2 separate regions of the Homo sapiens genome follow, and region 1 is linked to region 2. A link means that fine-mapping ties the variant in region 2 to the expression of a gene that starts in the linked region. Tissue or cell type: regulatory T cells. Region 2 holds a variant in brackets; the other region holds the start of a gene. All regions are shown on one strand. Distances are from middle to middle.

Region 1 (2,500 bases), 960 kb before region 2:
AAAATCATAATCATCATATTTTATATATATTTAACTTTTCCCCCATTATTTGACATTTTAAGATTGCTTTCAGCTTTTCACTTTTACAAATTTTATAAATTTGCATCCTTTCTCAGAGTAGATATCTAATAGTTGAATTACTGGGTTCTGAGGGAGGAAATTTCATGTAATGGTTATTGACTTAGGTTCATTTCTTGGTTGACTTTGTTGACTGCTAGCCATGTAACCATTAGTAAGATGCATAACTTCTCTAAAGCTTAGTTTCCTTATTTAATATAGAGAAAATATTTACTTCATAGTATGTGAATGCTCAGCATTGTATATGAATAAAGTGAGCAGAGCCAAGGCTGACTCTCAATCAATGCTAGCTGTTATTTTTGTACTTAAAAAATACTTGATATAGGTATTCATAAATAACAGGTAGATTTTACCTGTTTACACTTCCAACTTTAATAATGAGAACACTTAATTAGATTATAAAATTTTGAGTTAGAAAATGAACATGAAGTTGATTCCACAGGATTGCCACTCATTTGTGGCACTCTACAATACCCACTTGGGATAACCGTGAAAATGTTTGCAATTGCGAAACAATATGAAACCCATAAAACAATGGAGCGTATTTACATTAACACCTAGATCGCGTTGCTTAAAAGCGTCCATTACTTGCACGGATGAGGTCCTAAGGAAAGGTAAAGTGCGGTTTCCTTCACCTCGAAGGAAATCCAGGCTGACCGACAGCTGTTAGGCATTAGAAACACAGGACAAAGAGCAAACTGGATATCCAGCACTGGAAGAAAAAGGTGAGAAGCCCAGTGCATCTCCGCCTGTTTTAACAGGTTATGCTGCTCTAAGGAATTGCGTTCCGGAGAGCGTAAGCGGTGAAGTTTTAGCTATTTCTATCCTTCCAACTGAGAAGCCCTCCTGGAAGTTTCAGCCCATTGGCTGCTTTCTGTTCTCCCTGTTTCTTCTGGGAAGCTTCTCCGTCTCCCTGGCAACGCGACCTGCCACCAATTGCAGCTAAGGATTGGTGGTCACATGGCCTCTGCCCCTTCCCAAGCAGAGGCAACATGGCGGCCTTAGCAAGCTATAGCTGCGAGATTTGAATTACTCCACTCGTAGCTATTGCATTCCTGACGATGGCCTCTGTGGCTTCGTGCGATTCGCGTCCGAGCTCAGACGAGCTCCCTGGAGACCCCTCTTCACAAGAAGAAGATGAGGACTATGATTTTGAAGATCGGGTCAGCGACTCGGGTTCATATTCCTCAGCGAGTAGCGATTATGAGTAAGGTTTTCAAAGAGGGACAATTAATCCCATCCCATCAATCCAGAGAATATACACGTGGGCTGGGGGAACTGCAAGGGTGTTGGCGTGGTTGGAATCGAGTATTTGGGGTTCTATAATAAGTGGGATTTAATTGCACCACGTTCCATTGTATGGTGGTGTGAGCAGAAATGACGATGCCATTCTTTGCTACTGTAGGTTGTTTTTTGTTTGTTTTGTTTTGTTTTTTCAATGATTCTTAGATGAGGAGAATCTCCTCTTTTTGGTCATGGGCTCTGTCTAGGCCATAGGAGGATATATCTGTAACAGCGTTCAAAAAACTCTGTTTCGATCGCAGTGTCTTGATTCTTTGGTGTGACCTTTGTGGCTTAATCTCTTTAGTATTTGGAGTGGAGAGACACCCTACGCGTTTTATAAGGCAGTTGTTAAATTTATGTAGATTTTTTCTGTTATGGAAATGAATAGCTATATAACAGAAGGAACGCCCACCCATAGTCTCACCATCAAGGACAACCTCTCAGCACTTCTGGATATTTCTGCTGTATTTTCCTATGCATCTCCATGATTTTCTTGTTTTCCATTTTACGTCATAATTTAATTTTTAAAAATACAGATACCTAAAGGTTTCACTTTCTTAATAATGCCATGAAAAGGTTATTTTGATTCACAGTATTCAGTGCTACTTCATTTTTAAGAAAAATCTACCCCTTACTGCTATGGATTAAGAACTTTAGAAAAGTCAACTAGCAGTAGCTTGAAGAGAATGACTAATCGTGAAAAAGTTTTGGTGCCAAAATGTCAACTAACCCAGTAATGGACAACCATACCTGGTCAGTTTTAGGATGACATTTTATGTGTATTTAGGAACAACAGTTACAAATCATTTATATGTATGTAGGAGCAACTGTTATTTGGCAATTGTTTTTACCTATCAGTATGTAAAAGATTTTTATCATTGCCTTTAAAAGTATGGTGGGGAAACCTGTTTAATACATTCTTGAAGACTTAAACAAATTTTAAAATATCGTATTTTTTTGTAATCTGCTGTAGGCATTAAAAAAATAATTTTAAAATTCATGATTATTACACAAGGCTGCTGGAAGGAAATATGAATTACATAGAACCTTATTTGGTCTTGGTATGTGAAGCCATAGACAGTGTAAGACTCAAACTCTTGGCTTCTCCACATTTTAGAGTCGCATACTTTTAGCCCAG
Region 2 (2,762 bases):
GTTGAGTGAGTTTCACTGAACATGAGATCAATTTAGTTGTGAAGACTGACGTTTTGAAAAATAAACTAGAAAAGAATGGGATGGAACAAAACAGAAAACTATCAGAGGATTTGGATGTGATAGGAGTATTATTTTGTGAAACTTTGGTCTTGGTTAAATACACACATCTCAGTCTGTCTACAGTGGAGAGTCTGATGGTGCTTACCAGGACCTGTGGGCTCCTCTACCTCTCCCAGCCTCGACAACCGGCCATGTGACTGAGACCCTGTTGATAGAGTATGTCTGGAGGGATATATGCCACTTTCAGATATGGCCCTTAAAACCCTCCCACACAGGCTCCTCCATGCTTTCTTCTTCCCGTATGCCACTAGATGACACCGGGACAATCTTGAAGCCACATGATCTCAGAGGCACATGTGGAAGCAGCCTGGATCCTGAGCCATTATTTGGAGGAATGTCACCCAAATGGAGTCACCTGGCCAGGGACATCAGCTTTGGATTTTGTGTAAATGAAAAATAAATGTCTATTTGGTTAAGCCAGATTGTTTTACCTGCCTTGTGCACACGTTTGTGCTTGTGGGTGTGTGCATGCCTATGTGTGGGTGTGTGCATGTGGCTTATGCCACAACATATATTTCTTAATGCAGATTTTAGTCAAAAACATGTGAAAGCAAGTGTTTTGGACAGTGTGTTTCAAAATGTGGTCCCAAATCAATTGCAATAGAATCGCTTGGGATACTCATTAGAAATGCAGATTTCTGGACCCTACTGAGATCTACTGAGTCAGGATCTTGGTCCTGGGGCCTAGGAATGTTTAAGATTTTTAACAAACTCCATGAACCTTATAAACATTAAAGTTCAAAAACTACTTTGGTCCTGGCATTGGTAGAAATGTTTTCTTGGCAACCCTGGGGCTGGTTAAATCTAACAAGCATTGTATCTATTTTCCCTTTTTTTTTTTTTTTTTTGGTCATTGTCCAAAGTGCGAGTCTCTCCTTATTCCCCACTCCACCTATACTCTATATAATTTCATCATAACAGTACAGTGTCATGATTCACATACACCTTTTCTCAGAATACCTCCCAATTATCTTCCTCTTCCTAAGCTTTTACTGCCTTTGAAAAGGCCTGTTGCATAATTAACAAATGCCCCTATCCCTACAATCTTTTCCCTAACCATTTTCTTAATCTTCTGACTCTCTCCAAGTT[A/G]CCTGTTCTGCTCCTCTCTCAAGTGGGAGCTGCTCATTTTTCATTTTATGCACTCTTGTCAGAGTTGGCAAGTGGGTCAGATTTCTTCCTTAGTACCCACTGCTGCTTCCCAGCCAGGACTCTCCTACCCTTTTGGATAGGGCTGTATCAATTAGAATGCTTGTGGCTGCAGGTAACAGAATATCCAACCAGAAGAGCCATAAACAATAAAGACATTTATTATCTTACATGATAAGAAGTCAAAAGGTTGAGTGATATGTGGCTAATTCAACAGGTCTTTCCATTTTTCCACTCTGTCTTCTCCAGGATATTGTATTTAATTTTATCCTCAGGTTTGTGTCCTCATGGTTTCAAGATAGCTGCTGCCACTCCAGTCATCAAATCCCTCACTGCTACATCTGAATTAGTTTCCTATGGCTTCCGTAACAAATATCACAAACTTGGTTCTTAAAACAACAAAAATTTATTCTCTCACTGGTCTAGAAGCCAGAGGTTTGATGTGTCACTGGGCTGACATCAAAGTGTTAGCAGGGCTCTTCTCCCTCTGAAGGCTCTAGTGGAGAATCTGTTTCTTGCCTCTTCCAGATTCTGATAGCTGCCAGCATTCTTTGGCTTGTGGCCACATCACTCCAATCTCTGACTCCACCTTCACATTACCTTTGTGTGTGTGTGTGTGTGTGTGTGTGTGTGTGTGTGTGTGTGTGTGTCTTCTCTCTGTCTATATCAAATCTCCCTCTACCCCTTTCTTAAAAGGTCACTTTGTGACTGCATTTAGGGCCCACCTGGACAATTCAGGATATTCTCCCTATCTCAGGATCCTAAACTTAATCATATCTGCAAAGACCCTTTTCCCATACAAGGTAACATTTACAGGTTCCAGGGATTAGCACCTGATATCTCTCAGGGGAATTATTCAACCTGCTATAATGTCAAAACTGGAAAGTGCAATTTCTCCTCACCTACAATTTCCTAACAAGGAGGAAAATCTTTCCCCGAAGCCCCCATCTTATTGCCCCCTAGTCCTGTTGGCTAGGGTTGGGTCATGAGCTCATACATGTGATCTCCATGGGGAAGGAAGGCTCTATCAGCAAGAAAAATGATGAAAGGATGAGGTTAAAAATCACCAACATCTGCCTCAGGATTCCTGCTCCTTGAAGGCCCAGGTCATCAGGCCAAGCCCCCACTGCCCTTCCATGATGTTCTTCTCTTTTGGTTTTCTGTTCACTCCTCCTCAGTCGTTGAAGCCTGGCATTTGTTTCATATTCTTTCTATCTGACCCATCTAACCACTGAGCACTCAGTTCTCTGACCTCCTCATCTTCCAGTGATCTTCCATACCCCATCTCCGCCTTCCATTCTCACAGCTTCACCCTAGACCTGGACATCCCCCCTGAGATAACAAGTACAGATGACTGCCCTCCGGCTACATCCCCCTCCCTCCAGCTTACTCTGTTGCTCCCATCACTCCTCCTCTTTCCTTTCTGCCCATCCACCAACCACTTTTGTCTTCAGTTTCCTCCTATCCAGAACATATTACTTATATTCTAAATTCCC

The links. PIP is the estimated chance that this variant, and not a neighbour inherited with it, causes the effect.
Region 1: INTU starts here. The variant in region 2 is fine-mapped to the expression of INTU in regulatory T cells (Schmiedel 2018, PIP 0.95).

The regions. Positions count from the first base shown.
Region 1 is chr4:127,631,896-127,634,395 of GRCh38, forward strand. It overlaps INTU (inturned planar cell polarity protein), which reads left to right and starts at 1,062. Exons shown (of 16, transcript NM_015693.4): 1 at 1,062-1,285. The coding sequence starts at 1,140. RefSeq lists enhancers at 710-1,249, 912-1,091.
Region 2 is chr4:128,592,084-128,594,845 of GRCh38, forward strand. No RefSeq gene overlaps it. Among named protein-coding and RNA genes, the nearest start is that of LINC03140, 23 kb to the left of the region's middle. The variant A/G (reference allele first, on the strand shown) is at 1,210.